Linked DNA regions of Homo sapiens. The protein of the gene in region 1 purifies or fractionates together with the protein of each later gene. This does not show direct contact. Each region holds a gene or a part of one and is shown on either strand. Other genes may lie near its edges. The genes, in order: CRYL1, SLC60A2, WDR59, F2R, TBCD, USP54 and USP19.

Region 1 (3,500 bases):
TGTGCTGGGCTGGGGTTATAAGGATGCTGTCCATGTCACAACTGAGTTTATTTCCTTGCTATTATTCATTCAGATACCCCTGGTCTGAAAAAGGGAGTCTGACAAATTTATCAGCACCTTCCTCACTTGCAGTTGGTTACAAAGCTCAGAGAAGCTGCAGTCATTCTCTTTGCCCTAAAGGGACTGGGAGGACAGGCAGGGAAGAATGTCAGTGAGACAGCTGAGAAGGCACCTGCACTCCCTCTCCAACCCAGAGAGATGCAACCCATGCACTCTCAACTCTGTCTTTCAGGGGCCCTTTCTAGAGACAGGCACCAAATGTGAAGCACTAGCAAAAATTCTACCACTACTAAAGGTAATCAGCTTGACTTTGCTTAATTAAAGGTTGACAGCATCTTTCAAAGCACTGACTTTTGTTTGTTTGGGTTTTGTTTGTTTTGAGGCAGGGGAGGGAGACACAACTCATGACAAATAATATTCTCATGCACAACCACCATCGGCATGCCCTGATTTTGACAAATAAAACTCTGGGGAGAGGTAAAGCACAATACAACTTCCTAGTTCTCACAACTGTTCTGTCAGAAGGATCACCCTCTTCCTTAGACTGATCACTGGCTCAGGCAGTATCAGCAGCTGACAGGTGAGGCAGAGTTTAGACACTGGTGTTTCCCTGCCTTTCCTGAAGGGAAGAAACGACATGATGCTATTCCAGGCATTACTTTTAGTGCTCTCTAACTTGTATTTTTAAAGTAAATCATTTATAAACTTCAGTGTTTTATGGTTAGTAAAAGTTACCTGTGTGGTTAATTCAACTCATTAGGGCCCTGATGTGGAAAACTGGCACAGCCCCAGCAAGTCTGCTAACTGGACCACTCCCAGGGGAAGGGTGTGCTGGGTAAGTACTCACTTCTGAAGTTTAGCCACTTGCTTATGCAACATACATTTTCCAAAACATACATTTTCATGGTGAAAAAAAAATTCTGTCAAGTTTGTTATTGTTGTTTTTAAATCCACCCAGGCATTTTATTATTTTTATTTTTTGTTTTTATTTTTTGAGATGGAGTCTCACTCTGTTGCCCAGGCTGGAGTACAATGGCATGATCTCAGCTCACTGCAACTTCCATCTCCTATGTCAAGCGAGTCTCCTGCCTCAGCCTTCCAAGTAGCTGGGACTACAGGCCTGCACCACCACACCCGGCTAATTTTTGTATTTTTAGTAGAGACAGGGCTTCATCATGTTGGCCAAGCTAGTCTCGAACTCCTGACCTCAGGTGATCTGCCCACCTCAGCCTCCCAAAGTGCTGGGATTACAGGTGTAAGCCACCACACCTGGCCAACCCAGGCATTTTAAATAGGCATCCTGTTGCTAGAAAATCTGTATTGGCTAGTGCAAGATATCTGGAAGCAGCTTTCAACGTGCTTTACAGAAAGAAAAAACAAATTAGAAGACTTCAATACTTAGAGTACTTTACATGCAAAGAAGATCTATTAGATAATTTTAAGAGGAAAAGACATGGTAAGAAAGGAAATATGAATTAGAATCCTACTGCAATCATAGCAAAAGGAAATCCACTCTCAGGCTGAAGATGGAGGCGTTCTACATTATAAACTCTGTTAGCACTAGTTACATCTCTGGCTTTAATCTGCCTAATTAACACCCCAGTTTCTCTTCACCATTTCTCCCAGGAGTACAATCTTTAAAATCTGTCAGATTAATAGACTGCTGTGACAACACTTTTTAGGAGGTGGACACCATAATTATTTACATTTTTAAAAAAAGAATCTTTTTGCTCTAGAATAAATAATGTGTTAAGTAAAAGGGGAAAGAGCACATCTATTTTCAACATTACAGGCAACTAACTGCACTATGCTCTAACCAGGAGCTTGTTTTTTCCTTAAAAATCAAAATAAAGGGTTTAATTTTTAATTAAATAAAAGCATATTACCAATCCTAAACAGTTCTGCCATAATTGAGAAGAAATTATACCCAATCGAGAGAGATCTTTCCAAAGTAAAAATCAGTGTAGACTGAGTTTAAGAATGTGACTTCCTGGGGCTTAGGTGTTCCAGTTACAAGGATTATTGTTGTTTGCTTTAAAGAGCAGTCCTTTCTCCAGGTGACCGCAGAGAACCCAGAGGGGGCCACCGTGGCACAGGCATCGGTTGCTGTCCTGATTATGTGTCCGTCCCATCCTCATTCCAATGATGTTTTTGTACCGTTTGTGAAATCATTTCTTTAGAATTGTGTTAAAATGCTTGACATGAAAAAATAATACAACTGAAAATATTCCATTTAATCCTGCAATTATATAGTTTTACTGCATTTCTAGTATTTCTCATAAGGAACAAGTGAGAGTTTTGAATACAAATGTTTTTGGGGATGGAGTCTTGCTCTATCACCCAGGCTGGAGTGCAGTGGTGCGATCTCGGCTCACTGCAACCTCTGCCTCTCAGGTTCAAGCGATTCTCCTGACTCAGCCTCCAGAGTAGCTGGGATTACAGGTGCGCAGCACCATGCTCAGCTAATTTTTTGTATTTTTAGTAGAGACGGGGTTTCAGCATGTTGGCCAGGCTGGTCTTGAACTCCTGACCTCAAGTGATCCACCCGCCTCAGCTTCCCAAAGTGCCAGAATTACAGGAGTGAGCCTGTAACAAATCCTTTTTTATTTTTAACAAAGTGCTGGGAATAGCACGAAACATAAAATTGGAGACCCTTTAAGTAAAGAGTGAGTTTTAAAGAAGAAAAATGGAACATAAAAAAGTTTATGTGAAGGACATCAGTAACTCACAGTAGCATTTTCATTTTTGAAAATTCAGGTTTATTTCCAAGATCCAGGTAGTGGGGAACCCAGAGATATAAGGCTTACACTTGGCACCACTTTTACCTATGAGGTAACTGTTTATTTCAAAAGCACAGACAAAATGGCTAAAATGACAAGCAGAGTTTTTAACATACTCAGAGTGCTGGGGGAAATGTTGGCATTCAGGGCCTGGTAACTGCCCCAGGCTTCCAGTTGGAACCCTCAAGGGCTATATCCCTTGAGCATCCCTTATACCAGGAATAATAGTAACAACAGACCAGTCTTCACAAGGACTGAAACTTGGTCTCAATTTATCTCAATCCACAATTAAGTTAGGGAGATATGCTCCTAGCCTACCTGCCTTCTAGTGAAGCTTCTCTGGAGCATGATAATATCAACCAGAGCCCTAGTTTTTCATAAGCAATGTCTCATACTCAAACAAATAGACAATATTAGGGAAGACCTGAATGAAAACCAAGAGAGAAAACAGACTTTAGAAATAGACCCTTAGGGCATTCACATAATGGTGGTATCAGACATAAATTGTGAAATAACTATAATTAAGATGTTTAAGAAACTAAAAGGATATTAAACAATTTCAGCATAAAGTAAAACTATGACAAAAATCAAATGGAAAGTCAACAACTAAATAATAAAAATTAGCTGGCTTATCATAAGAGAATCAAGGAATTTCCTGGC
Region 2 (4,167 bases), on another chromosome or scaffold:
CTGCAGCAACACGGATGAAACTGAAGGACACTATGTTAAGGGAGTTATTTCACTTAACAGAAAGACAAATATTCCATGTTCTCACTTAGATGTGGGAGCTAAAAAATTAATCTCATGGAGGTAGTGAGTAGAATAATAATTACCAGAGGCTGGGAAGGGTAGGGGACAGAGCAGAGGGCAGCAGGTTGGTTAGCAAATACAAAAATACAGTTAGACAGAAGGAATAAGTTCTAGTGTTTGATAGCACAGTAGAGTGACTACAGTTAACACTAGTTTATTGTATATTTCAAAATAGCTACAGGAGAAGATGTGAAATGTTCCCAACACAAAGAAATGATAAACATTTGAGGTGATGGATATCCCAACTACCCTGATTTGCTCATTACACACTGTATGCATGTATCGAATTATCACAGGGAACCCATAATTATGCATAGCTATTATGTATCAATTCAAAAATCAGTGAAACAACTGAAACATGAATCTTAAACCAACATCACTATTGTTATCAATATTTTATTCAAACAAGTTTTTATATGGTACAAAGCTATGTAAACAGTGAGTAGTCTATTTTTTTTGTTTGAGATGGAGTCTCACTCATGCAGTGGTGTGATCATGGCTCACTGCAGTGTTGAACTCCTCGGCTCAAGGTATCCTCCCGCCTTGGCCTCCCAAAGCACTGAGATTACAGGTGTGAGCCACCACGCCCAGCCTAGGTGAGTAGTCTTAAATTCAGATGTAATAAACCTGCAAGATCATTCCTACTCTGTTAAGCCCCCCAAATCAAAATTGACTGGTGAAAACCTGCCTAGAAGGGCAACCTCCAAAAGATCTGAGCTTTTGTTTTAGGAAGGACTTCAAATAACAGCAATATTTCCTGCACTGGACCAAGCAGCAGTGGAGTGAATAGAAAACATGAGATCTCTTCCTCTCCAGTTTTCCTTTAAGAAAGTGCACAGGCTAGGCGCGGTGGCTCATGCCTGTAATCTCAGCACTTTGGGAGGCCGAGGTGGGCGGATCACGAGGTCAAGAGATCAAGACCATCCTGGCTAACGTGGTGAAACCCCGTCTCTACTAGAAATACAAAAAATTAGCTGGGCACAGTGGTGGGCGCCTGTAGTCCCAGCTACTCAGGAGAATGGCGTGAACCCGGGAGGTGAAGTTTGCAGTGAGCTGAGATAGCGCCACTGCACTCCAGCCTGGGCAATAGAGCGAGACTCTGTCTCAAAAAAAAAAAAAAGAAAGAAAGAAAGTGCACAGAATTTCAAGGATCTACAAAAGTGGCATAACTTAATCAATCTGTAAGTAAGCCTAAGAAAAAACCACGGTCATTAGTAGAGGATCCAGTTTTGTGCACTGATCAAAGCAGTGGTTCTCAATCTTGGCTGCACATTACAATTACGGGGGATTGGGGAGGAGGAGTTACTTTTTTAAATATCCATACTCAGGCTCCACTCCAGACCAAATTGGTATTTAAGTTAAAATGCTGGGCATCAGTCATTTTTAAACACTGCCAGGTGATTCTAACAGCAGCCAGGTTTGAAAACCACTGGAGCAAAGGTTAATCACTTGGGCAGAGGACAAGAACACATTTTGCAATCACGTTTTTCCCTTGGGTCCTCTTTCCTTCTGGAGCTTATGAATTCTGGAGGGTGTAGAAGCAAAATGTCACTTTCCCTTGCTTCAGTAAGACTAAGAACTTCCTATATCATTCTATTAGTCTGTTTTCATGCTGTTGATAAAGACAGACCTGAGATTAGGTAATTTACAAAAGAGGTTTATTGGACTTACAGTTCCACATGGCTGGGGAGGCTTCACAATCATGGCGGAAGGCAAGGAGCAGCAAATCACATCTTATATAGATGGCAGCAGGCAAAATGAGGGCTTGTGCAGGAAAACTCCCTCTTATAATAACCAAAAGATCTCGTGAGACTTCCTCACTATCACAAGAACAGCACGGGAAAGACTTGCCCCCATGATTTAGTTACCTCCCACCAGGTCCCTCCAACAACACATGGGAATTCAAGATGAGATTTGGGTGGGGACACAGCCAAACTATATCAATCACCATCAGAAAAGAAAGACGTTGCACCCTGAGACAAAACAAAAATGATAGGGTCATCTAACTGTTGATGATCTAAAAAACAATAAAACCTTGAATGTTTCCCATAAACCTGGACTCCCTAAGAAATTTTATCCTTGGTTTTTCCTGTACTACATCTGAAGATTTGCCATAACCTTTATGAATACAATAATTACATGAGGCAGTTACTGTTTTTCACCGTGAACAGTCTAATGCAAACTCAGAAACCTTGGCAGTTTTTAATTTTTTCCTTCAAATACTTACGTTTTTTATTAGGCAAGCCAGTCATTCTCTTGCTCTCTTTGCAGGTAAACTTTTCCTTTTCTAAATGCTTCTGTCTCTGAGTATTTCTTCAACAAGGGTAAAGATTCATAGAGTGCTTGGACACAGAACTGGATACTCTGCTCCTGGGGGCAGAGTTCACTGCAAGTGATAAGGGAAAGAGCTGAGAAATGAGAACCTGCTCTGTCAGCCCAAGGGTCTTTGGAGCTGTAATCCAAGATCTAGTTTGACCATAAATATATTCTCTTGGCTGGACTGAATAAATCTCAAAAGTTGGTGTCAGATTCCTTTGTTGTAGGCTTCCTAAGCCTTCTTGCCTATATTCACCTCAACTACACTGTGCCGAGTAATTTCTACAAAATTCTAAATCAAAAATTACCCCAAAGACATAGACAAGTACTAGAAATGAACAAACAAAAACACACACCAAGGAACCAAGAGTTTAGCTACTTTCCTTTTCTAAAACTGGGTAAAACCTATTACAATAAGAGTTACTGGCTCTTCCGCTGATAGAAATTTTGTCATGGCAAATTTTACTTAAAATAGAAAAACATAAGCTTGGTGAAGGCAAGGATCTCATCTGCCTTCTCCTATTATATTCCCAGGGCCCTGGTTACTGAACATGGTAAATGCTCAGTAAATATCTGTTAGATAACTGAAATGCATGAATTTGGAAAACTTTCTGGTCCGCACAGATGAGAACTGTAATAATATCTCTTGCAAACTGGGACTCCTCTTAGAGCTCACTCAAGTAGAAATCTTACCCTCTTAGGAGAAAGCTTTCTTTCTTGGTAAAAATCAAACAATCCACAAACCTTGTCTAACACGCTCTTCCAAAAAAGTCTGCAATTTGGTGTGATTTTGTTTTTCCAGTTCTGATGCAGATGAACCAGGCCATCCATCCCAGGACCTGCCAATTTTCATCCCATTCAGGTATCGATTACCAATATTTATGAAGCCTAGCACTTCTCTGGTACAGAGCAGACAGTGGACATTCCCTTTTGATGATAACAGCTCCTGCATGCAGAGTGGTGGGAGTAGGAGGGTAGAAGTAGCCACTTTCTGGATGGGAGCAATGTCATCAACCCAAAGGGAACCCCTTCATAGGCTAACCAGCAACTCCTGAGGCAAGGCCCAATAAGGGCAATGGCATCTACTCAAGTCAAACAGGTTTCCTCCGGAATCTGGACCAGAGATACACAGAGGAACTCCTGAGGCAAGGCCCAATAAGGGCAATGGCATCTATTCAAGTCAAACAGGTTTCCTCTGGAATCTGGACCAGAGATATATAGAAGATGGGCCAGGAATGCAGAAAACGAGTGGTCCCAAGGAGGGGCAGAACTGCTGTGAGAGAGGCAGAGAGCAGCCCATTTATCGTTCTCAGACCACACACCTTCTGGTTCCAAGGTGGTTCAGAGGGATCTCTGTAAACGAATGAGCACAAAACACAGAACCATTCATTTGGCAGAAAACTGAGATCAAAGCTGTACCTGCTACTGCAAGGACAAAAAAGAAAGTTCATTAATACTTAGTCTACAGAGCCTCACATGCAGTAAGCCCTCAAGCACTTGTGCAATGACTGAACAAAAATTGCAAGCAGAGATAACAAAACTTTGAGGTAGTTGCCCAACATAACTTTTCTTTGAGTTCACTTATTCAGTACATGGGTGCTACTGATATGATCATAATGCGCCTAAAGTCTGAGATAATACCTTAAAAGTATGTGTTTATTCTCTTCCTAAAGCTACTCTCTTCTGGAAAAACTTGATTAAGAAAAAAATCTAAGACAAAAAACACAAACA
Region 3 (3,500 bases), on another chromosome or scaffold:
AGGGGGACCAAGGAACTGTTTGGAGTGATGGAAACGTTCTACATCATGATTACGGCAGTGGTTACATGACTACATCCATTTGTCAAAACCCAACAAACTCTACAATTATACCTGCATAAACCTGGATTTTTTTTTTTTAATCACTCTGGCTATATGGAAGATAAAATGGAAGAAGGAAATGCTACTGTGAGGGAAGAGTTGTCTCCAAGTATGTTCAGCTGCTTTGGACATACAGAGCTTGATTTTCTCGCAGATCCTGAAGTGGAGACACGAAGTAGGCAGCCACCGTGGGTCTGCAGTTCTTCTCTTCAACACAGGAGTCATCCACTGCAGCACTTTTGCAAATATCATTAGGTTAGCCTTGTAACTGCACATTCCAGCATCTTACCTTTCCTTGAGAGTGAAAACTAATCTCCACACTTCTCAGTACTCTGAACTGTACTTTCCAATATCATAGCCATTAGCCACAGTGGCTATTTAAATGGCAATTAAAATGCCATAAAATTGAAAATACATCTGTCGCACTAGCCCCATTTCCATCATCACTGGAAGTTCTACAAAACAGTGATGCTCTGGGCCAGGCGCGGTGGCAGCATTTTGGGAGGCCAAGGCGGGCAGATCACGAGATCAGGAGATTGAGACAATCCTGGCTAACACAGTGAAACCCCATCTCTACTAAAAAATACAAAAAAATTAGCCAGGCATGGTGGCGGGCGCCTGTAGTCCCAGCTACTCGGGAGGCTGAGGCAGGAGAATGGCATGAACCCGGGAGGCGGAGCTTACAGTGAGCCAAGATCGAGCCACTGCACTCCAGCCTGGGCGACAGAGTGAGACTCTGTCTCAAAACAAAACAAAACAAAACAAAACAAACAAACAAAAAAACAGTGTTGCTCTGGAAGATTACCTGCAAGTTGTGTGTTTTTTTTGTTTTTTTCAGATGGAGTCTCGCTCTTGTCACCCAGGCTGGAGTGCAGTGGCACGATCTAGGCTCACTGCAACCTCCACCTCCTGGGTTCAAGCGATTCTTCTGCCTCAGCCACCCGAGTAGCTGGGATTACAGGCACCCACCACCACACCCGGCTAATTTTTGTATTTTTAGTACAGATGGGGTTTCACCATATTGGCCAGGCTGGTCTCGAACTCCCAACCTCAAGATCCGCCTGCCTCAGCCTCCCAAAGTGCTGGGATTACAGGTGTGAGTCACCACACCCGGCCTTTTTTTTTTTTTTTTTTTTTTTTCTTTGAGACAGAGCTTCACCTTGTCACCCAAGCTGGAGTGCAATGGCGTGATCTCAGCTCACCACAACCTCCAACTCCTGGGCTCAAGCAATTCTCCTCCCTCAGCCTCCCGAGTAGCTGGGATGACAGGCATGCACCACCACGCCCAGCTAATTTTTATTGTATTTTTAGTATTTTTAGTAGAAACGGGCTTTCACCATGTTAGCCAGGCTGGTCTCGACTCCTGACACAGGTGATCCACCTGCCTCGGCCTCCCAAAGTGCTGGAGTTATACGCGTGAGCCACCATGCCTGGCCTAAGTTTTCTTATAGTGTTAACACTCATTGATGCCAGGAAGCACTTCACAGTAGTTGCCAAGCAGCACAGGCTCTTGATTATTAATTAGTGACAGTAATAGCCCAAAGCATTGTTTCATAAAATAAATGGCACTTTTATAAACTATAAAAAAGACTTTCACACTTCAGACTGGGGTTTTCCTCTGAAAAATCTAAGTCTTTTTTTTTTTTTTTTTTGAGACAGAGTTTCGCTCTTGCCCAGGCTGTAGTGCAACGGTGCGATTTGGCTCGCTGCAACCTCCGCCTCCCAGGTTCAAGTGACTCTCCTGCCTCAGCCTCCCGAGTAGGTGGAATTACAGGCACACGCCACCATGCCTGGCTAATTTTTGTATTTTTAGTAGAGATGGGGTTTCACCATGTTGGCCAGGCTGGTCTCAAACTCCTGACCTCAGGTGATCTACCTGCCTTGGCCTCCTAAAGTGCTAGGATTACAGGCGTTAGCCTACGCCCAGCCAAAAAATCTAAAAGTTTTAATTTTAAAAAATTATTTTCAGACCAGGTGCAATGGCTCACATCTGTAATCCAGCGCTTTGGGAGGCTGAGGCAGGCATATCACTTCAGGTAAGGAGTTCAAGACCAGCCTGGCCAACATGACGAAACCCCATCTCTACTAAAATACAAAAATTAGCCCGGTGTGGTGGGGCACGCCTGTAATCCCAGCTACTCAGGAGGCAGGAGAAGCACTTGAACCCAGGAGGTGGAGGTGACAGCGAGCTGAGATTGCGCCACTGCACTCCAGCCTGGGCAACAGAGCGAGACTCCATCTCAAAAATAAAAAAATATATATTTTTAGGCCAAGGTGGGAGGATCACTTCAGCTCAGGAGTTCAAGACCAGCCTGAACAAGAACGTAAAGCCCCATCTCTGCAAAAAAAAACACACAAAAAGGCCGGGTGCGGTGGCTCACGCCTGTAATCCCAGCACTTTGGGAGGCTGAGGCGGGCGGATCACAAGGTCAGGAGATCGAGACCATCCTGGCTAACACGGTGAAACCCTGTCTCTACTAAAAAAAATATATATATACAAAAAATTAGCCAGGCGTGGTGGTGGGCGCCTGTAGTCCCAGCTACTTGGGAGGTTGAGGCAGGAGAATGCCGTGAACCTGGGAGGCAGAGTTTGCAGTGAGCAGAGATCATGCCACTGCACTCCAGCCTGGGCGACAGAGAGAGACTCTGTCTCAAAAAAAAAACAAAAAAAACACACACACACAAAATTGTGGGGCTTGGTGGTGTGCACCTGTATTCACAGCTACTCAGGAGACTGAGGTGGGAAGATCACTTGATACCATAAGGTTGAGGCTGAGGTGAGCCAAGATTGCACCACTGCATTCCAGCCTGGGTGACAGAGCAAGACCCTGTCTTACACATATATACATATATATTTTTTGTATTTTTTTAGACAATACATATACATTTACATATATATATATATATATATATATATATATATATATATATATATATATTTTTTTTTTTTTTAGATGGAGTCTCACTCTGTCGCCCAGGCTGGAGTACAGTGGTGAGATCTTGGCTCACTGCAACCTCTGCCTCCCAGGTTCAAGCTATTCTCCTGCCTTAGCCTCCCAAGTAGCTGGGATTACAGGTGCATGCCACTATGGTCGGCTAATTTTTGTATCTTTAGTAGAGATAGGGTTTCACCATGTTGGCCAGGCTGGTCTCAAACTCCTGACCTCAGGTGATCCGCCTACCTCGGCCTCCCAAAGTGGTGGGATTACAGGCGTGAGCCACCACGCCTGGCCATATATGTATATTTTTTAGGCCAGGCACGGTGGCTCACGCCTGTAATCCCAGCACTTTGGGAAGCTGCAGCAGGAAAATCACTTGAACCTCGGAGTTCAAGACCACCTGGGCAAGATACAGAGACTCCTATCCCTATTTAAAAAAAAAATGCAAAATGAAAGAAATTT
Region 4 (3,500 bases), on another chromosome or scaffold:
AAAACTACTAGCAGAAAACATAGAGGAAAAGCTTCATGACATTGTCTGGGCAGTAATTTTTTATAATGACCATAAAAGCACAGGCAATAAAAGGAGAAGTAGACAACTGGGACTGTATCAAAGTAAAAAGCTTCTGCACAGCAAAGGAAACAATCAACAGTGAAGAGAAAATTTATGAAATGAAAGCAAATATTTGCAAACCATACGTCTGATAAAGGGTTAATATCCAAAATATATAAGGAACTCCTATAACTCAACAGCAAGATAACAAATCACCTGATTTAAAAATGGACAAAGGATCTGAATAGACATTTTTCAAAAGAAGACATACAAATGGCCAACAAGTATATGAAAAAATGCTCAACATCACTAATCAGGGAAATGAACATTAAAACCACAATGAGTTATCACTTCATACCTGTTAGAATGGATATTATCAAAAAGATGACAGATAACAAGTGTTGGTGAGGATACGGGGAAAGGAAGCCCATCTATACTGATGGTGGGAATTTAAATTGGCATAGCCATTACGAAAAACAGTATGAAGGTTCCTCTAAAACTAAAAATAGAACTATTATATAATACAGCAATTCCACTGCTGGGCATACATCCAAAGGAAATAAAATTAGGATGCTGGCTGGGCACGGTGGCTCACGCCTGTAATCCCAGCACTTTGGGAGGCCAAGGTGGGTGGATCACCTGAGGTCAGGAGTTTGAGACCAGCCTGGCCAACATGGCAAAACCCTGTCTCTACTAAAATTACAAAAATTAGCCAGGCTTGGTAGCGCATACCTATAATCCCAGCTCCTCGGGAGGCTGAGGCAGGAGAATTGCTTGAACGCAGGAGGCGGAGGTTGCAGTGAGCTGAGATTGCGCCATTGCACTCCAGCCTGGCCGACAGAGCGAGACCCCATCTCAAAAAAAAAAAAAAAAAAAAAAAGACCAGGATGTCAATAGCTGCAATCTCATGTTCATTGCAGAATTATTTATAATAGCCCAGTTATGGAATCAAACTAGGTATCCACTGATGAATGAATGAATGAATAAAAAATATGATGTATATACACAGTGGAATACTATTCAGCCTTAAAAAAGAAGGAAATTCTGTCATTTGCAACAACATGGATGAGCCGAGAGGGCATAATGTTAAGTGAAATATGGCAGGCACCGAAAGACAAATATAGCATGATTTCACTTATATGTGGAATCGAAAACAGTTGAACTCATGGAAGCAGAGAAGAGAATGGTGGTTAGTAGAGGCTGGGGTTGGATGGGTGGGTAGGGTAGACTGGGGAGACATTGGTCAAAGGGTACAAAATTTCTGTTAAAAGGAATTAGTTAGAAAAATCTCTTGTATAATACGGTGACTATAGTTAATAACAATGTGTTGTATACTTGACAATTGCTAAGAGAGTAGACTTTAAGTGGTCTCACCACAAAAAATGATAAGTATTTGAGGTAATACATGTTATAAGTTTGATTTAGCCATCTCACAAGTTATGCATATTTCAAAACATTATGTTATACACTATAAATATATATAATTTTTTGTCAAATAAAAGAAAAAGGGGGCTGCCAGGTGTGGTGGCTCACACCTGTAATCTCAACACTTTGGGAAGCCCAGGTGGGAGGACAAGTTGAGCCTGGGAGATCGAGGCTACAGTGAGGTATCATCACACCATTGTACTCCAGCCTGGGCAACAGAGTGAGACTCTGTCTCTAAAAAAAAAAAAAAAAAAGTGACCCAGTCTTAAGTAAAAAGACAGTGAGCGGAAACCAACCTCAAGTTGACCCAGATGTTGGAATTAGCAGATAAGGATTTTGAAGAATGTATTACAACCATGTGCAAAAAAAAAAAAAAAGAAAAATATTTTATAGAAATGAACTGAAAATAGGAAATATCAGCAAAGAACTACCAAGTGGAAATTCTAGAAATAGAAAATAAAATACAATATGTTGGCATCTATTTCCAAAATGAAGAGCAAAGCTAGAGTAGTACCAACTCAGAGACAGCAGAGCAGAGCCTGGTAGTGTAGGGTTGAGGTCAAGCTACCTAAGCAAAGTTGGGAGAGGGTCTCCAGACAATGAAGGGGTGGCCTGGCAGGAGATCTGTCACAGGGAAGGAATGAATGTCTCCAGTGATGAATGTGAATACACACTTGTGTCTACATTGATCCTTAAGGGTAAGAACTGTTCCTGTTAATCTCTGAACCTCCAGTACCCTGTGCCCTGCATGTGGTAGGCACATATTTGTATTCTAATATTGACTCTGTTCAGGGATCACTTAACTTCTCTGAATTAAGCTCAGAATCATTAAAATGGAATTCTAATTCCTGTCTGGCCTACAAATCTGGCAACTGGAGCATCCCGTGTGAAACAGGACATACATTCACTTTGGAAACCATAACGATTAAGCAGTTTAAGAAATTACTATTATCCTTCCTCTCCCACTTCCATGTAGTGTGCTTTTATACCCAATTGTTTGCTCACTTAATTAAGTTAAAAGGAAATCTAGGTTCATCTTCCCTCCTACTTAGCAATGTTTATAGTTTTTTAGTACAATGAGGGAATGAACAAGTTGTATATTATATAGCTCTAGGGTTCAGAGCTATAAATCAAATTTTGAATTCACAATCTTTTCTGGAAGTATCACTCTCTTACCTTTGCAATGCATGTAACTTACTCTGTGTTCACCTTGCCCCAGTCACACAGAAGCCTGACCTTGGTACCAACAGACCCTGTGGATGTGAGGCTGTTCTCAAGATCACAATGAGTGTGTGGGTGCTGAAAGAAAAGAATGAATGGCTTCTGGCACTTAAACATTTTTTTTTATTTTTAATTTTTTTTGTTTGTGGTTCTGGCACTTTAATATCACAAAAACATGCATATGCAAAAATGCTGATCTAGAGGAACCAATTTTTTTTTGAGATGGAGTCTTGCTCTGTCACCCAAGCTGGAGAGCAGTGGTGCGATTTTGGCTCACTGCAACCTCTGCCTCCCCAGTTCAAGCAATCCTCCTGCCTCAGCCTCCCAAGTAGCTGGGATTACAAGCACGCACCGCCATGCCCAGCTAATTTTTTTTTTTTTTTGAGACAGAGTCTCGCTCTTTCGCCCAGGCCGGACTGCAGTGGCGCTATCTCTATCTCGGCTCACTGCTAACTCCACCTCCCGGGTTCACGCCATTCTCTTGCCTCAGCCTCCCTAGTAGCTGGGACTACAGGTGCCTGCCACCGCGCCCGGCTAATTTTTTGTATTTTTAGAAGAAATGGGGTTTCACCGTGTTAGCCAGGATGGTCTCTATCTTCTGACCTCGTGATCCACCCACCTCGGCCTCCCAAAGTGCTAGGATTACAGGTGTGAGCCACCGCGCCCGGCTGCCCAGCTAATTTTTGTATTTTTAGTAGAGATGGGGTTTCACCATGCTTGCCAGCTAGTCTCATGCTCCTGGCCTCAAGTGATCCACCCACCTCAGCCTCCCAAAGTGCTGGGATTACAGGCAT
Region 5 (3,500 bases), on another chromosome or scaffold:
CAGTGCGCCCCCGGAGCCCTGTCTCTCTAAATGAGGCTGACGTGGCTTGGCCTGAAGGCCCTGCCCCGTTACTCTGGGTGCATAGTGTATGCCTTTTTCTTCATAACTATTTCTGGGAAAGAAAAATATGCTCCATTTTATTATTGTTCCATATTAGAAGACAGACATTGTGGAAGGAATAATCAGGTTATCCATTCAGTTTCTTAGTTGTAGTGGTAGTAAAGTGATGCGTGTATCTGACAGATGATGGTGAGCAGGCGTGCTGGAAAGGAGTAGCATGACTTAGGGGTTCTTTTGGTTTGGTTCGAAAGTCATTGCTGTGCCGAGATCTCAGGGTGACCCGCTGTGTCCCTGGTCAGGTCCTTCTCTGACCTCAAGGGTGACCTGCTGTGTCCTTGGCCGGGTGCTTCTCCAACCTCAGGGCGACCCGCTGGGTCCCTGGTCAGGCAGGGGCTGCTCTGACCTCAGGGTGACCACGGTGTCCCTGGTCAGGTGCTTCTCCGACTTCAGAGTGACCTGCTCTGTCCCTGGCCGGGGGCTTCTCCGAGCAGAGCTGCTGTGCGCTCACCGTGCTGCCTTTGTTTTAGGATGCAGCAGTCTCGGCCCTGGCTGCTCTATGCAGTGAATATTACATGAAGGAGCCGGGGGAGGCAGATCCCGCAATTCAGGGTGAGTGGGGAGCCCTTTTCTTGAAGACTCCAGGGGCTTCCAGCAGGAAGCTGCTGGGGAGTGTCTGGGCACGGAGGAGGCCTCGGTTGTGCAGTGGAGCAGAGCCACCACGATCATGGCTGGAGTGGGACTGTTCGGGTCTCAGGTTCCCAGCCGAGGAGCTGTGGGCAGGTCCTGCAGCTGCCCAGGATGTTGCATCAGCTCTGAACAGGTGGCTCAGCAGGGACGCGTCTCTGTTGACGGCACCCTCTTGCTCCATCACCCAGGCTGGAGTGGTGTGGCGTGATTCGGCTCACTGCAACCTCTGCCTCCTGAGTTCAAGCAATTCTTGTGCCTCAGCCTCCTGAGTAGGTGGGACTACAGGTGCCTGCCACCATACCCGGCTAATTTTTGTATTTTTAGTAGAGACGGGGTTTTACTGCATTGGCCAGGCTGGAATCGAACTCCTGACCTCAGGTGATCCACCTGCCTCAGCCTCCCAAAGTTCTGGGATTACAGGTGTGAGCCACTGCACTCGGTCAGTGTTTTTAGAATTTTTGTATGCACCGTGACATTTTTCTGCTGTGTGTTTCACTCGTTAATACATTTTGCTGTTTTTTCCTTCTTTATGAAAGTAGCATTAGGCTGGCTTTACGCCGTGTCCCGTGCGTAGCTGCTGTGCCGCCTCACTGTACATCCTGCACCCCCGTGCTGAAGTTCAGGCTTGCTTCTCGCACATCATGTTCGAGGGATCTGCTTCATGAATCGTACTTTTATTTTTAAAGTGTCACATGCACATATGTTGGCCCACAGTGTTCCTTTATGTCATATGATAGAACATGCATTATTAATCACGTCAAAAGTGTGTGAATCACCACTTAAAATTATTATAAGTATATAAAAATCATGCATTAGCTTGGCATGGTGGCACACACCTGTAATCCCAGCTACTTGGGAGGCTGAGTGTGGGGTTGAGGCTGCAGCGAGCTAAGCTTGCACCACGGCACTCCAGCCTGGGTGACAGAATGAGACTCTCTCAAAAAAAAAATTCTCTTTCTGATTCCTATTTTGAGGTAGGCCACTTTGGAAACGTGTCTGCTTTGGGAACCTCAGGCGGCTCCTCCTTTGTTCACTGTGGCTTTGCTCCTGTTTGGGGCACACGTCGGGTGTGGCTGTACACGATGGGCAGCAGAGGGCCTCTCTTCACACTCGTTGCTTCCTTTCAGAGGAGCTGATCACGCAGTACCTGGCTGAGCTTCGGAACCCCGAGGAGATGACTCGCTGTGGCTTCTCGTTGGCCTTGGGCGCCCTTCCAGGCTTCCTTCTGAAAGGCCGGCTCCAGCAGGTGAGGCTGGCCACGCGCAGTGGACGGGGCCTAGGGCGAGGGTGTGGGAGCCTCGTGTGTTGGGGCATGAGGTAGGCCCAGCCGTTAATAAACCCATCAGTGCTTGTAGCTGGGAGGGGGTTCCTGGAAACCGGCACCTGTGGCCAGGAGGAAGGGGGCAGAGGGCACCCAAGGTCTGTGGCCCCTTAGGGCCCTGGCGAACCCTTTGCTGTCAGAGGACAGACTTGAAAAAGCTGAATTCTGGGAGGGAGGAGAAGGTGTTGTTTGTAGAAGCAGCTGCCGAGAGTGAGGAGAACACAGTTGCCTTTGTGCGTTGTGGAGCCGGGTCCTGTTTTGGTTGCGGCCGTGCATCCTGCATCCAGGTCGGGGCAGAGGTGGTTCCACGTCCTCCCAGAGGTCAGCCCCACGCTGGCCTCAGTGACCTGCTCTCTCACGCTTTCCTGTGGTGCTGGTCCCACTGACCAACCTGCCGGGAACTCCTGCTTGTCTCCCCTCCGGCCACCTGGCGTCTGAAGCTGGAATAGGCCCTGGCCACTGGGTTCCCCACGCCCTTCCCTCCCCATGGGATCCAGCCTTGGCACTTCAGGATCTGCAGCTCCAGACGGACTCCTGCCTGTGTGGCGGGTGGGCCTCGCAGCCGCCATGCCATCTAAAACTCGCATGTGGGGGTTTATCCAGTTGAAACACAGATAAATGTGAAACAGGATCACTTGGAGATATGACAGATGAGGTTGTCGGGACCCAGCAGCTTCCTTTGTCAATACCCCAGGTCTCAGCGTAGGACAAAAGGGGGGGACCTCAGGTAGGGTGTGGCCAGACCCCCAGTGACACCCTGGGGTGGGGGCTGGCCGTGGAGAGGCTGGAGGTGACCTCTCCCCGGGTGTCCTTCCTGGGTTGTACTGGGGGCCGTGGAGAGGCTGGAGGTGACCTCTCCCCGGGTGTCCTTCCTGGGTTGTACTGGGGGCCGTGGAGAGGCTGGAGGTGACCTCTCCCCGGGTGTCCTTCCTGGGTTGTACTGGGGGCCGTGGAGAGGCTGGAGGTGACCTCTCCCCGGGTGTCCTTCCTGGGTTGTACCGGGGGCCGTGGAGAGGCTGGAGGTGACTCCTCCCCGGGTGTCCTTCCTGGGTTGTACTGGGGGCCGTGGAGAGGCTGGAGGTGACCTCTCCCCGGGTGTCCTTCCTGGGTTGTACCAGGGGCCATGGATGGCCGTGAGGAAGGTGGTGCCAGGAGCTGCCTATCTCATGGTGTGGGGTCTGTGGCTCCGGGCCAACATTGCCACCTCCCTAAAGAGTGCACTTTGTTATAGCTTATGGTTCTTCTGTGATTCTTTATTGCTTTCCAGGTTCTCACAGGTTTAAGAGCAGTTACCCACACTTCCCCCGAGGACGTAAGTTTTGCTGAGTCCAGGAGAGACGGCTTGAAGGCCATTGCGAGGTGAGTCCCAACAGTTCCTCCCTAAAGTCGTAAGTCTCTGAAAGGCCAGCAGATGAACGCTAAGGGGGATGTT
Region 6 (3,500 bases), on another chromosome or scaffold:
TTTTTTTTTTAGCATTTTTTGAAAAACTAATTTGGTGGCCGGGCGTGGTGGCTCACACCTGTAATCCCAGCACTTTGGGAAGCTGAGGCAGGTGGATTGCTTGAGCTCAGAGTTTGAGACCAGCCTGGGCAACATGGTGAAACCCCGTCTCTACAAAATATACAAAAATTAGTCAGGTGTGGTGGCACATGCCTGTAATCCCAGCTACTTGGGAGGCTGAAGCACGAGAATCGCTTGAACCTGGGAGACGGAGGTTGCAGTGAGCTGAGGTTGTGCCACTGCACTCCAGCCTGGGCAACAGAGCGAGACTCTGTCTCAAAAAATAAATAAATTTTAAAAAGTAATGTAATTTGGTGCTTAATAAATGTTTTACAATAAGATAAAGAACTCTCAAATTATATTTTTTCTTTTTTTTTTTTGAGACAGTTTCACTCTTGTCACCCAGGCTGGAGTGCAGTGGCGTGATCTCGGCTCACTGCAACCTCCATCTCCTGGGTTCAAGCAATTCTCCTGCCTCAGCCTCCCGAGTAGCTGGGATTACAGGCACGTGCCACAATACCCGGCTAATTTTTTTTGTATTTTTAGTAGAGATGGGGTTTCACCACGTTGGTCAGGCTGGTCTCGAACTCCTGACCTCAGGTGATCCACCCGACTCAGCCTCCCAAAGTGCTGGGATTACAGGCGTGAGCCACCGCACCTGGCCAAATTATATTTTTTCATATGTGAATCCTAATTGGCATTTTCCTTCATCTACTTCCCAATTAATTCTATCTGATCACTTCTTTATTCTATGTCATATCACTCCTCTTTTTTTTGAGACAGGGTCTTGTTCTGTTGCTCAGGCTGGAGCGCAGTAGCATGACCACAGCTCGCCGCAGCCTCAACCTCCCAGTCTCAGTTGATCCTCCTGCTTCAGCCTCCCAAGTAGCTGGACTACTGACCCGCACCACCACACCCAGCTAATTTTCTCAGTCTTTGTAGAGATGGGGATCTTACTGTGTTGCCCAGCTGGTCTTGAACTCCTGGGCTCAAGTGATCCTCACACCTTGGCTTCTCAAAGTGCTGGTATTACAGGTGTGAGCCACTGCACCCAGCCTGTCATGTCACTTCTTAAGGACTCAGTTTTTAAACCAAGGACTCTAACAAAAATAAAGACTAGTTTGATTTTACTTTTTTTTTTTAAGAGATAGGGTCTCACTGTGTTGCCCAGGCTGGAGGAGAGTGGCTGTTCACAGGCATGTGCTCATAGCACACTACAGCCTGAAGCTCCTGGCCTCAAGTGATTTTCCTGCCTCAGTCTCCCAAGTAGCTGGGGTTACAGGCATGAGTCATCATGCTCCGCTTGATTTGATAAATATATTGAGAATAGATTGACTACTAGATAGATTTTTAAAAATTTGTTTCTTTACACTACTAGACAAAAAAATTAATGGTCAGTAAGTACTCTTTCATACTGTTTTCAGAAGTATAGTCTTCTTCAAAGCTAACTGGCCAGTATGTATCAATATTTTTTTTAAGTTTATAACATTCAAATTAGTCAGGTATGGTAGTGCATGCCTGTAGTCCCAACTACTCAAGGGGCTGAGGTGGGAGGATCTCTTGAGCCAAGAAGGTCAAGGCTACAGTGAGCTGTGATCATGTCACTGCACTCCAGCCAAGACAACAACATGAGACCCTGTCTCAAAAATGAAAAAAAAAAAGTTTATAACATTCAACTAGTTATTAGTCTTCTAAAAGGTTATTCTAAGGAGCTCATGAGAAACGTGACCACTTAAGTGCAAAGATATTCAACACAGTACTATGTTATTAAAAATTACAAGTAAGCCAGGAGCGGTGGCTCACCTTATAGTCACTTCTCACTTTATAGTCCCAGCACTTTGGGAGGCTGACGCAGGCGGATTACTTGAGGCCAGGAGTTCGAGACCAGCCTGGCCAACATGGTGAAACCCCTTCTCTACTAAAAATACAAAAAATTAGCCAGGCTTGGTGGCACACGCCTATGGTTCCAGCTACTCGGGAGGCTGAGGCAGAAGAATTGCTTGAACCCGGGAGGCGGAGGTTGCAGTGAGCCAAGGTTGTGCAACTGTACTCCAGCCTGGATGACAGAGCGAGACTGCCTCAAAAAAAAAAAAAAAATTGTAAGTAACCTAAATATTCAACAATAGTAGGATGGTTGAAGAAATAAATTACAGTACATTCATATGAAACACTTTATAACCATTAAAGGTAGTTTTTACAGCAAATGCTCACAGATATAACATGAGAAAGTCATGATACTAAACTGTATACATATAGTGTAAAGGATACTGCTTTTTGCAAAAACAAAACTATATAGTACATGTGTATAAAAATGAAAACCAAAGGTAAGCTTATGAAAACATTAAGAGTGAGATTATCAGTGATTTTTGATACTTTATGTATTTTCAAACTACCTGCAATGAAAAATGTTGCTATTTTGGGTAATACAAATTTTTTTTTGTTTTTGGTTTTGAGATAGAGTCTTGGTCTGTCGCCCAGGTTAGAATGCAGTGGCACAATCTCAGTTCACTGCAACCTCCACCTCCTGGGTTCAAGCAATTCTCCTGCCATCAGCCCCCCAAATAGCTGGGATTACAGGTGCCCGCCACCATGCCCAGCTAATTTTTTGTATTTATAATAGAGACAGGGTCTCACCATGTTGGCCAGGCTGGTCTTGAACTCCTGACCTTGGGTGATCCACCTGCCTCGGCCTCCCAAAATGCTGGGATCACAGGTGTGGGCCACCGTGCCCAGCTAATTTTTTTGTGTGTATTTTTAGTAGAGACGGGGTTTCATCATGTTAGCCAGGATGGTCTCAATCTCCTGACCTCATGATCCGCCCACCTCCGCCTCCCAAGTGCTGGGATTACAGGCATGAGCCACCATGCCTGGCCTTATTATTCTTAAAATAATTACTTGTGGCCTGGCACGGTGGCTCACGTGTATAATCCCTGCACTTTGGGAGGCCAAGGCGAGTGGATCACTTGAGGTTAGGGCTTCGAGATGAGCCTGGCCAACATGGTGAACCCCATCTCTACTAAAAATATAAAAATTAGCTGGGCGTGGTGGCACACACCTGTAATCCCAGCTACTCGGGAGGCTGAGGCAGGAGAAGTGGCCTGAACCCAGGAGGCAGAGGTTGCAGTGAGCTGAGATCACGTCACTGCACTCCAGCCTGGGCAACAGAGCGAGACTCTGTCTCAAAAAAAAAAAAAAATTATTTGTGTATTCTTGCTTCCTTAGATAGAAAGCTCACTGAGGCAGACTCCAGCTTTCCCTTATTCTTTAGATTCTTCCCATATCAACCAGTCCTATCAAAGACCACCTTAGTAAATGTTATTGTAAAATCTACATTAGGATACGGATCCTCAGAAATGTATCTTAATATCAAGTCTTAGGACAGGCACGGTGGCTCACACCTTTAATCCCAGCACTTTGGGAGGCTGAGGCGGGGGGATCACCTGAGGTCAGGAGTTCAAGAC
Region 7 (3,274 bases), on another chromosome or scaffold:
GCAAGATCTGCCCCACAGCAGTTTTCCTCCTGCTCTGTTACCTGCAGGGATGCAGTTAGTGTTCAAGTTACAGCAAAGAAAAAGCTGAGGACAGGAGAGGAGGAGGAAGATCTCCCAGTACTTCTGTCCCCCAAGTCCTCCCTGACTTGTCAGCCCCAGGCTGCTCTGGTGAATGCACCTTTTACTCCACGCTGTCAGCTCCAGTGCTTCATATACTCCTCTGTCCCTTGGCTATATTGAGATCCTGACGATGCCTACCAAGCTGCCTCTTATGTAGGATCCAGAACCAGTGGGATGAAAGAGCAGCAGGTAGGCTCCAAAAAGCTGATAGCACTGGGGGCTTCATGACCCATAGGACATGAGCTGGGACCCCATCATCTCCCTTCAGACTAGGGCACTTTCAGGGTCTCTCATATATAAACACACATACACACACATACACACCGCAAATGATGGGGAGGGGAGGTGGCCCCAGCATGTGGTGGATCACAGTCACTAAGTCTACTTACTTATTATTTATTTTTAAAATATATTTAAACAGCAGCAGTCACTTCCAAAATGCAAAAAAAATTACAATTTTTAGAATAAAATTATAATGTTTATAATGCGGGTCAGAAGAATTGAAGGTACAACAGAATCAAATCACGCAGCACTGGAGGCGGCTGGAGAAGCCAAAGCCCACTGGTCAGGGGTCCAAGCTGACAAGAAGTCCCAACCTGAGAGGTCTCCACACCCAAATCATACCCCTCAGCTTCCCATTGACAGAGCCAGTGTCCTCTGGGTTAGAGAAGGAGAAGCGGCAAGGAGCTGGCCCTCTGTGTGGGTGTCCCAAACCCAGTCCCCCCCATCAGCCAGGGACCTGCTAATCCACCTCCTCCATGTTGCTGTAGGTGGGGGCTGGCCGATCCACAGGGGGGGCGAAGCGTTCAGGGGCTGTCCGCGTGGGGGCCACCTCGGGGGCCTGGCCAGGGCCTAGTCCCTGCAACAGAATACGAGGACAGGGGTTGGGGGCTGCCCAGCATGCCGCCTGGCATCCCGGGGGTGCTGGCTTGGAGCCCTGGCACCCAAGGGAGGGTCCCAAGGCAGGCGCAGACAGCAGCGGCGTTGAGACAGAGAGACGAGATTGGGCCTGAATAGTCTGGTTTTATTAACACTTTTAAGTACAGGAAGTAGCTTGGGCAGGGCCAAGCCTGAGGCCAAGGGTCAGAGCAGCAGGATGAATGGACAGACAGCCAGATGGATACACACCCTAGGATACTCTGCCCCTGCAGGGGCCACAACCTCCCCACCCTCTCCCACCAGATGCATAAGCTGAGGCCCAAAGCCCAGAGGTGTTCCCCACAACAAAGGCAGGCATGGCCTGGGGCAGGCAGGTAGGCCAGCTCACAGCAGCTGCCTGCAGGCGAGCTCATCTCCAGCGACTCTGGGATACCAGAGGATAGAACACGTTGAGCACGAGGGCCACCAAAGCCGCCACGGTGCCCAGGACAAAGTACCGGAGGCAGCCCTCATCTGGTGTGGTAGGGCCACGTGGTAGGGGGCCCACCCAGTCTTGGGGCCCCCAGGGACCCAGGGGCCCAGACCCCTCAGGCACCGGCTCCTCCTCAGCCTCCAGCTCCTGCCAAATCCGGGAAGCCTAGGGTATGTGGAAACGGCCATCAGCACCCCGGGGGTGGGGAGGACCCAGTGTCCCTGAGACCCTTAGCCATGACAGTCCCACCTGGGGTGACTGGGGCTAACACCCTGCATTCTAGATCAAACAGCAAGGAGGAAGGCAGGCAGCCAACCTCAGGGCTGTCCAGAGTAAGAGCACAAGGGTAAGAGAATCTTGACAGCATTTTGGCCTACCCTAAACAGCTCTCAATCCACATGCAGCTCCGCATGGAGGTGGGAGGGGAGTTATCTGGTTAGTATTTCAGTCCAGGCCTCCCCAAAGGACACCGATTCATAGAGAACAGGACTGCCAATCCCAGAGCAATCTCCTTGCTCCTTCCCACCCATACCCAGATCCTGACCAGTCTTCTGCAAGGATTTCTCTAAGCTTGACAGAGAAGGCTCAAGAGAGGATGGAGCCAGAAAGGAGACGGCCAGTCCAGAAAAGAGATGTGCCTACGCCCACTAACTGGGCCTATGGCACACCATGTCACTAAAGAGAAGATCCTGAAGGCTCAGCAAAGACAGATGCTTACCTCAAAGAGTATAACAGCCACCAGAGGCCATGGCCAGCCCAAATAGGCCTTGTCTTGAGTGCACACTAGAACTCAGGGACATCACAAGTGAGGGTGTGTGGGCCAGCATGTGGGGAATGTGCAGAGGAAATCTAGGAGAGTGTCAGGTATAGTTCATTCACAGCATAGTGCCCAGTGAGGTTCAGAGCAGTTGCCTGACCTGTGCCAAGTAGGTGCCAATGTGCTTGCCAGTGGCAGCATGTTAGTGTACTTGTATGTTTGTTAGTGTCCCCAAGGCATGGGGATGCCTCTGGCTAAAGCTTTGATGTTAAGAGAACTCTGCAATTCTCATGAATCCCAAGGCTCAATGGGCCTGTGGCTGGAGGAGAGGAAGCTATATCCCCCAACCCGGCCCCAGTCTGTGAACTGTCCCCCAGTATTCTGTAAAGCCTCCCACATGCCTCACCTGGCTGGCAGCAGCCTCAGCTGCAGGGCCTAGGTCTGGGTGGTGCTCAGAGTGACCTGCCCTGGGGGGCCTCTCCACAGGAGAGTTCCGCCGGCGGTAGAAGAGTACATAGGCATAACGCGTCACAACCTGGCTCTCGTCTACCGTTGTCACTGTGCTGTCATCAAACAAGCGCCAGCCTACAGCAGGGTGGGAAGAGTGTGAACAAAGTCTGCACCACCACCCCTACCACCTATCCTGCTGGCTGTGTGTGCCCTCACCCACGTCACTGCGCTGACTGCTACGATCATTGGGCAGGCGTGCACAGGCAGTGTAGTGGCCACCAATCATGCCTCCATAGTGGTTGATGACAGCATATAGATCGTAGCTGGGCAGCTGCTCCTCTTTCTGACCAATGCAGAACTTGCTCAGGTCCAGGTTCCTGCAGGTCAGGTCCAGTCAGGGAGGGGTGAGACAGGCAACAGGCGCTCAGGATGCCCATCCTGGTCCTCACACCCCACCCACAGTTACCAAGGTCCACTGCTTACCTAACAGGGAACTCCACCAAGTCATTGATCTTGTCACGCCAGATAAAACTACGAAAGGAGAAGCGCTTGAGCTGCACGATGAGAACATTTGGCAGGCGCCATAGCAACAGCTG

Evidence for each region.
Region 2: the proteins of CRYL1 (region 1) and SLC60A2 purify together in Homo sapiens (affinity purification with mass spectrometry; one large-scale study listed by BioGRID and IntAct). This does not show direct contact.
Region 3: the proteins of CRYL1 (region 1) and WDR59 purify together in Homo sapiens (affinity purification with mass spectrometry; 2 studies listed by BioGRID and IntAct, with this or other methods). This does not show direct contact.
Region 4: the proteins of CRYL1 (region 1) and F2R purify together in Homo sapiens (affinity purification with mass spectrometry; one large-scale study listed by BioGRID and IntAct). This does not show direct contact.
Region 5: the proteins of CRYL1 (region 1) and TBCD purify together in Homo sapiens (affinity purification with mass spectrometry; 2 studies listed by BioGRID and IntAct, with this or other methods). This does not show direct contact.
Region 6: the proteins of CRYL1 (region 1) and USP54 purify together in Homo sapiens (affinity purification with mass spectrometry; one large-scale study listed by BioGRID and IntAct). This does not show direct contact.
Region 7: the proteins of CRYL1 (region 1) and USP19 purify together in Homo sapiens (affinity purification with mass spectrometry; 2 studies listed by BioGRID and IntAct, with this or other methods). This does not show direct contact.

What each region holds. Positions count from the first base shown.
Region 1 is NC_000013.11:20,442,358-20,445,857, forward strand, and holds part of CRYL1 (lambda-crystallin homolog), read right to left. Parts: intron 1-3,500. UniProt on the Homo sapiens protein: Has high L-gulonate 3-dehydrogenase activity. It also exhibits low dehydrogenase activity toward L-3-hydroxybutyrate (HBA) and L-threonate.
Region 2 is NC_000006.12:111,276,339-111,280,505, reverse strand, and holds the end of SLC60A2 (sodium-dependent glucose transporter 1), read right to left. Parts: 3' UTR 501-4,167; downstream 1-500. UniProt on the Homo sapiens protein: May function as a sodium-dependent glucose transporter. Potential channels for urea in the inner medulla of kidney.
Region 3 is NC_000016.10:74,978,624-74,982,123, forward strand, and holds part of WDR59 (GATOR2 complex protein WDR59), read right to left. Parts: intron 1-3,500. UniProt on the Homo sapiens protein: As a component of the GATOR2 complex, functions as an activator of the amino acid-sensing branch of the mTORC1 signaling pathway. The GATOR2 complex indirectly activates mTORC1 through the inhibition of the GATOR1 subcomplex.
Region 4 is NC_000005.10:76,726,126-76,729,625, reverse strand, and holds part of F2R (proteinase-activated receptor 1 isoform 1 precursor), read right to left. Parts: intron 915-3,500; exon of another isoform or gene 793-914; intron 1-792. UniProt on the Homo sapiens protein: High affinity receptor that binds the activated thrombin, leading to calcium release from intracellular stores.
Region 5 is NC_000017.11:82,923,065-82,926,564, forward strand, and holds part of TBCD (tubulin-specific chaperone D), read left to right. Parts: intron 1-587; coding exon 588-669; intron 670-1,874; coding exon 1,875-1,993; intron 1,994-3,335; coding exon 3,336-3,427; intron 3,428-3,500.
Region 6 is NC_000010.11:73,511,343-73,514,842, forward strand, and holds part of USP54 (ubiquitin carboxyl-terminal hydrolase 54), read right to left. Parts: intron 1-3,500.
Region 7 is NC_000003.12:49,107,550-49,110,823, forward strand, and holds the end of USP19 (ubiquitin carboxyl-terminal hydrolase 19), read right to left. Parts: coding exon 3,162-3,274; intron 3,056-3,161; coding exon 2,895-3,055; intron 2,814-2,894; coding exon 2,635-2,813; intron 1,637-2,634; coding exon of another isoform or gene 1,409-1,636; exon of another isoform or gene 1,124-1,408; intron 980-1,123; coding exon 863-979; 3' UTR 501-862; downstream 1-500. UniProt on the Homo sapiens protein: Deubiquitinating enzyme that regulates the degradation of various proteins by removing ubiquitin moieties, thereby preventing their proteasomal degradation. Stabilizes RNF123, which promotes CDKN1B degradation and contributes to cell proliferation.